Linked DNA regions of Homo sapiens. Changing the gene in region 1 together with any one later gene gives a genetic interaction. Each region holds a gene or a part of one and is shown on either strand. Other genes may lie near its edges. The genes, in order: RBBP7 and SREBF2.

Region 1 (3,817 bases):
TCAATCCGTTATATGCCATGTAACATACTCTTCTATTATACAAGGGGCCTGAGGAGTCTTCTGGTTCTTCCCCTCTCCACTTTACTGAGAGAGGCATACTTCTTGCCCATCTTTCCAACGTACACAGACAGCACCAGGGTGAAAGAAAATCCCTGGCTCCAAAAGCATAGCTCCAGATAGTCCCTCATAAGCTATGCCTAAGGTGAGAGCTTTGCTAAACAATTCTGAAGAGAGCAGTTGTTCCCCGCAAGAGACAACCTCGTCGGAATGCACTATGCCTTATTTTTTTATCTTAGAATTAAGATTTAAACGAAACACTTCTTCACAAGGACAGTACTAAATACACTGTTTGGAACTGGGACATCACACTTTCTGACAAAGTCTGATTTGACTCTAGTTTGACAATGAGGTCTCTGCCTGCCAACTAGGTATTATGCAATGTATCTATTTTACCGAATAATCTTATCGGGTTAAAAATATGAGGTGGGGCTGGGTAAAACTCACGCCTGTAATCCCAGCACTTTGGGAGGCCAAAGCAGGCGGATGGCTCGAGCTCAGGAGTTCAAGACCAGCCTGGGCAACATGACAAAACCCCGTCTCTACAAAAAATACGAAAATTAGCCGGGCGTGGTGGGGTGTGCCCATAGTCCCAGCTACTCAGGAGGCTGAGATGGGAAGACAGCTTGAACCTGGGAGGTGGAGGTTGCAGTGAACTAAGACTGCGCCACTGCACTCCAGCCTGGGTGACAGAACCAGACCTTGACTTAAAAAAAAAAGAGGTAAATAGCTTTTTAAAGTACTCTTAAGGGGTACACAAGTGAATATACTGGCCGGGTGTGGTGGCTCACGCCTGTAATCCCACCACTTTGGGAGGCTGAGGCGGGCGGATCACGAGGTCAAGAGATCAAGACCATCCTGGCCAACATGGTGAAACCCTGTCTCTACTAAAAATACAAAAATTAGCTGGACATGGTGTTGCGCACCTGTAGTCCCAGCTACTCGGGAGGCTGAGGCAGGAGAATCACTTGAACCCGGGAGGCAGAGGTTGCAGTGAGCTGAGATTGCACCACTGCACTCCAGCCTGGGCGACAGAGAGAGTACTCTTAAGGGGTACACAGGTGAATATATTTTAAGATCACTGGGGCTTAGAAAACATACAGGAGTTATCAAAGCATACTGGTGGAATAGTTTACTACTTTGTTTTTGGGACAGGGTCTCACTCCCATTGCCCAGGCTGGAGTGCAGTGGTGTGATCATGGCTCACTGCAGCCTCAACTTCCCGGGCTCAGGTGATTCTCCTACCTCAGTCTCCCAAGTAGCTGGGACTACAGGCACGCGCCACCACACCTGGCTAATTTATGTATTTTTTTTTTTTTTTGGTAGAGACAGGACAGGGTTTTGCCATGTTTCCCAGCCTGGTCTTGAACTTGTGGGCTCACGTGATCCACCTGCCTTGGCCTCCCAAAGTGCTGGGATTCCAGGCAGGAGCCACCATGCCCAGGCCCAGTTTACTACTCTCAAATGTCCCTTGATTTCAAGCTCTCTTGTAAAAAGCAAAATCCTAGTGTATTTTCTCAAGGACCTTGGAATTGTTGCAGAGGCATAATATACAAAGTAATACGCTTTCCTTTCTCCCTAAAAAAAATAGCTGGAGACCTTGAAAACATTGTACTATGTGAAAGAATCAGTCCCAAAAGACAAAAGTCATATTTATATGAAATATCTAGAATAGCCCAATCTTATAGTGCCAGAAAGTAGCACAGTAGTTGCCAAGGGCTGGAGGAAGAAGAGAATTGGGAGGTGATAGCTATAGTTTCTTTTGGAGGGGATGAATAATGTTCTAGAATTGATTTGTGGTGATAGTTTTACAAGTCTATGAATATACTAAAAACCACTGACTTCAAGAACAAAAAAAGAAAAAAAACCCCCAAAACCCAAGAACACTCCCTCCCCACTGAACTGTACACTTTAAAGAAGTGAACTGTGTGGTATGTAAATTATATCTCAGTAAAGCCGTCATCAAAATAAAAGGGTCTGGAGCATTCTTACAAGGTGGGCTTAGTGAACATCTTCTGTGTGCAGGGCTTGCTCTCAAGGACCTTCTTTACCTTTGAAAACTTGTGGACATTCAATATACTCCATAGGTTCACAGAAAAAATGAATAAATAAAACTCATGGACAAAGTACAAGTGTGCCAAAAATGAGTACTGGCATTAGAACTAAAATCGTAAATGACAGAGTGATGAGTGACTATCGGCCAAATAATGGGAGGAGACAAATGTTGGATTCAGAGCAAGGACAGGGAACCATTGCTAAATCCGGCAATGCTTCATAGAAAAATGACGAAGTGAGCACTGAAGGACTCAGACGGGAAGAATGAGGATGGGCAGATACCACCACATAAGCTTTCAAAGGGCCAAGGAGATGCGTGATGCTTCAATCAGGCATGGGAGGGAGATAGTGGGCTCTGCTAACATCAAGATTGAGAAAGCACTCCTTTTCTGGGCAGGAAACTTAAAAAGCATTTAAAATTTTTTCTATACTGTTAGGAAATGTTAAGTACTGCCAACTGAATAGCAATTATACTCACTCCCCATCCCCAAACCATCACAAATACCAGAGTTGAAATCAGTGAGAAATTACTATATACTATTTTCCAGGACCTCAAACCATTCTCAGTGAAACATTCATAAAAACCTACTGGGCTCCATTTACTATTTTTGATAAATGTCAAAGCCCAGTTGCAATAACCTTCAGGGCCTCCATTTTGAAACCATCTGCAAGAGCTAGAATTCGAAGTTCTGACCCATTCTCGAAATAAAGAGATCAATGACAATCCAATCTGCATATGACATTTCATCTTCTATAAGCCAATGCGTACCAGGAGTTCTGGAGGCCCATCTTCTGCATCTTCTGCTGATTGTTCTTCCCCAATTTTACTGTAAGAATAAAGAATATAACGCTTTCATCAGTGAAATTCTTGTAGCACGAACATCTGCTAAACCAGTATCAGCCCAGAAAGTAATCTTAAAACATAAACACACTCACAAAAACAACTTATTTCTATACTACAATCAATTAGGTTTTTTTTTTCCTTAGAGACATGGCCTCGCTATGTTTCCCAGGCTGCAGTCAGTAGCTATTCATTCACAGGCACGATCACTGTGCACTACAGCCTTGAACTCCTGGGCTCAAAAGCGATCCTCTCGCCTCAGCCTCACCACATCTGGCTACTGTTTATATTTGGTGTAAGGACGGGATGTTTACTTTCTGGAAATAAGTTAGAGTTGTTCATAATTGAAGTTGCAGAATGAGGAATTATTGTCAATAATAAACATTAACTCAAAATCCCTTCATTAACTGTTTATTGCCTTAGAATTAAAAGGTGAAATGTATAGTTAAAAAAATCTACACATAAACTGATGTGCAATCCCTATACTTCACTCAAAGCCTGTTGCATCCCAGGAGTAAAATATAATTACAAATCAGTACTATAGATCTGTCTAAAGATATGGCAATAAAACTTTGAGAAATGTGTAAGCCAAGGAAATGTTTTTATGGTTTTTCTCTTAAAAACTTCAATTTGTAGAATTTGCCAGTGCTCAACAGTGAAATCACTCTTTATGTATCAATATCAGCCCTGTCCTTATACCTAGCCCAAAGACTTTAGTAGTAACAACTACTAAAAAACAAAACCCAGCCCTCCAAGTGAGACATTTTTTTCCTTCCCACAAAACTAACCAAACAATCTCAAACCTGTGGGATTGCTAGACAATACTTATCTTCCACCTGTCAGTATAGTTGCTAAAACTCACCA
Region 2 (3,817 bases), on another chromosome or scaffold:
TGCTATTCTTTTCTACCTCCTTGTAGACTCCAGTACTCCCACATCGAACACACATTGCTAATACTTTTTCGAGCGAAAAACAACTAAGAGGGGTGACATTTACAATTTGACTGATTTGTGCTATAGACCCTCCCATACCTACTCAGCATATAGAGATTTAACATCTCTGAAGACTAACACCTCCAGGAATAAAGGGGGAGGGAGGAGGGTGGGGGAGAAGGCAGCTCTTACTGGTACTTGAAGGGCAGCCGTCTGGATAGGGGTGGTGAGGGCGGTGAGGGCCGGGTTCTGGACCGCAGCCATAACAGGGCTGCCATCTGTCTTCAGTGTGGTCAAAACAAGGGAATCTGTCTTGATGATCTGAGGCTGGACCAGGACCTGGATGAAGAAGGAAGAAAAGTAAAAGGATGATAGCATTATCCTTCTGTTATGCATTCCTTTCTTACTGCATAGACCTTCCAAGAAAGAATGAGAAATGATATAATTTTTATGAAATTGAGAATAAAAAAATGAACAGGAAATTTCATAGAGGCCATTTCAAAAGCCGGCTATTTTGTACAGCCTGAATACCGGGTTCAGGTGGAGAAAGAGGGGCTAGCTAATGAGGGTCCTGGCTTTTTTTTTTTTTTTTTTTTTTTGCTGAGACAGGGTTGCTCTCTGTTGCCCAGGCTGGAGTGCAGTGGTGCAATCTCAGCTCACTGCAGCCTTGACCTCCCGGGCTCAAGTGATCCTGCTGCCTCAGCCTCCTGAGTAGCTGGGACTACAGGTGTGTGCCACCATGCCTGGCTAATTGTTTGTATTTTTTTGTAGAGACAGGGTTTCACCATGTTGCCCAGGCTGGTCCTGAACTTTTGGGTTCAAGAAATCCACCTGCCTCAGCCTCCCAAAGTGCTGAGATTACAGGCGTGAGCCATGGTGCTCAGCCAGGTCATGGGTTTTTAGGTTGAAAGACTTTCAAGAGGGTGGTGCCAGTGGCCCAGCAGGAGCAGAGCAGAGATGGGTAGGGTGGATGGCAGAGAGGAGAGAAAAGACTCAGGAAAGCCAGACACATGGCTGAGAAGCAAAAATAATAAACCTGATTTTTTTAAGATAAATTGTTAGTAAGAAAATATAGGCCAGATGTGGTGGCTCATGCTTGTAATCCCAGCACTTTGGGAGACCAAGGCAGGTGGATCATGAGGTCAGGAGTTTGAGACCAGCCTAACCAACATGGTGAAACCCTGTCTCTACTAAAAATACAAAAATTAGCTGGGCGTGATGGCGCGTGCCTGGAATCCCAGCTACTCGGGAGGCCGAGGCAGGAGAATTGCTTGAACCCAGGAGGCTGAGGTTGCACAGTGAGCCGAGATCGTGCCACTGCACTCCAGCCTGGGCGACAGAGCAAGACTCTCAAAAAAAAAAAAAGAAAAAAGAGGATATAGTCCACGATGATATATAACATAAAGACGTTTTTTGTGATTATAAAAATAATACACGTCCCCCAGCTGGGCACAGTGGCTCCCACCTGTAGTCTCAGCACTTTGGGAGGCCGAGATCGATGCACTGTTTGAGGCCAGGAGTTCAAAACCAGCCTGGCCAACCTGGAGAAACCCCATCTCTACTAAAAATACAAAAAACTAGCCAGGTGCAGTGGCAGGTGCTTGTAATCCCAGCTACTTGGGAGGCTGAGGCAGGAGAATCGCTTGAACCTGGTAGGCGGGGGTTGCAGGGAGCCAAGATCACGCCACTGCACTCCAACCTGGGCAACAAGAGCAAAACTGTCTCCAAAAAAAAAAAATTAAAAAAAAGATTAATAATACATGCCCCCCCTCCCCCCAACCCAATATATGTTCAGGATCCACAGCAGAAAATATGGAGAACAGAAAACTATGAAAGCCAAGGGCAGTGGCTCACGTCTGTAATCCCAGCACTTTGGGAGGCCGAGGCGGGTGGATCACAAGGTCAGAAGTTCAAGCCAGCCTGGCCAACATCCCGTCTCTACTAAAAATATAAAAATTAGCCGGGTGTGGTGGCACATGCCTGTAGTCCCAGCTACTCGGGAGGCTGAAGCAGCAGAACTGCTTGAACCCGGGAGGCGGAGGTTATAGTGAGCTGAGACCACACCACTCCACTCCAGCTTGGGCAACAGAATGAGACTCCGTCTCAAAACAACAACAACAACAAAAAAACACAACACAAAACTATGAAAAAGAAAATTATCTGGGAAATACCAATTTAGCACATTTCTTTCCAGTTTTATGCCCATTACATGTGTACGTAAGTGACTGCACCAGCCTTTCCTGAGTGCCAGTGTCTATCTACAGATATGGACTCAGCCAGGTCACTATACGCTGCTCACAGGTGCATCCTGGCGCCCTACAAGCTGCTTTGTGTACACTCTGGTTGGTCCTTCTTAGTATGTAGACCACATCTTCAACCAAGGACCAGTTAACAGCCCCAACCAGTGCCTCCCTGAATCCTTTCCAGCCACTTACCGGGACCTGCTGCACCTGTGGCGCAGCAACTGTCTGCACCGTAGCCGGGGCAAGGGTCTGCAGCGTGCCATTGGCCGTTTGTGTCAGCACCCGCTGGGCCTGTACTGTCTGCACCTGCTGCTGAATGGTGACCGGCTGTACCTGGGAGGATGTCACCAGGCTTTGGACTTGAGGCTGAAGGACTTGGGAGAAGAGGAGAAAGAAGGCACAGAGATGAGGAATGCATTCTGTCACTGCAGCTGCAGCAGAAACCTGAGGATGGAGTATCTCATAATGATTCCAACTCCCCACCTACTGCTGAAGATGATGTGCACAGCCATTTACAAGGTGGCTTAGACAACAAGAACATCCCATAAGGGCTGCATCAATTTCTGAGGGAACGAGTACAAATTGTTTTATTACTCTGGGTGCCAGGGTGGGGGAAAGGGAAGCTAATCAGCAAATGACTGCACCCAGCAAGGGAGTTAACAGATGTTGAGAATCAACAACTCCCTGGGGCTTCATTTTCTTCCATCCTTTCTGGACGGCAAGTGCACTTTGGGAGGACTGTCTCAGCTTTTTGCCTTTACATTCCCCCACCTGTCCCAATTCTTGAACTCCATTGAAGAACTATAAGATTCTTTGAAATTCAAAGCAATACTAATCTTACCCTGGGCTCCCCACAGAGTCAGAGGGAAATATGATGAAAAGGCACTGGGATGCAGCACATCACAGAAAGAACAGGCCCCTTTCAGTCATCCATTCCCTCAACACATACTAAGGGCCCAGCATGAGGCTTGCTACTTGAAGCTGCTGCACCTATATTAAAAGTCATATTCATCACCATAGTGGATGCTCAGATGTTTGCTGAATGAATAGTTCTCAACTGTGGCAGCTGAGATCTGGCTGCCGCCTAGCCAATTTCAAGCCTTATTCAAGTCTCCACCACTAGTTATCAGAATGGCCCTGTGTCTACTATGCTTGCTGGATTTTTTTTTTTCTTTTTAAGATGGGAGTCTCGCTCTGTTGCCTAGGCTGGAGTGCAGTGGCACGATCTCTGCTCACTGCAAGCTCTGCCTCCCGGGTTCACGCCATTCTCCTGCCTCAGCCTCCCGAGTAGCTGGGACTACAGGCGCCCGCCACCATGCCCGGCTAATTTTTTCTATTTTTTAGTAGAGATGGGGTTTCACTGAGTTAGCCAGGATGGTCTCAATCTCCTGACCTCGTGATCCGCCCGCCTTGGCCTCCCAAAGTGCTGGGATTACAGGCGTGAGCCACCGCGCCCGGCCGCTTGCTGGATTTTTTAACCAAGTATTTTTGAATTAGGCGCAATAGATATTAAGGTATTTGAAGCTGCAGAATGT

What was found.
Region 2: changes in RBBP7 (region 1) and SREBF2 together harm fitness less than expected from each alone (positive genetic interaction), as found in Homo sapiens cells (one large-scale study listed by BioGRID).

Annotation. Positions count from the first base shown.
Region 1 is NC_000023.11:16,846,363-16,850,179, forward strand, and holds part of RBBP7 (histone-binding protein RBBP7), read right to left. Parts: intron 2,940-3,817; coding exon 2,882-2,939; intron 1-2,881. UniProt on the Homo sapiens protein: Core histone-binding subunit that may target chromatin remodeling factors, histone acetyltransferases and histone deacetylases to their histone substrates in a manner that is regulated by nucleosomal DNA.
Region 2 is NC_000022.11:41,867,450-41,871,266, reverse strand, and holds part of SREBF2 (sterol regulatory element-binding protein 2), read right to left. Parts: intron 2,657-3,817; coding exon 2,475-2,656; intron 379-2,474; coding exon 232-378; intron 1-231.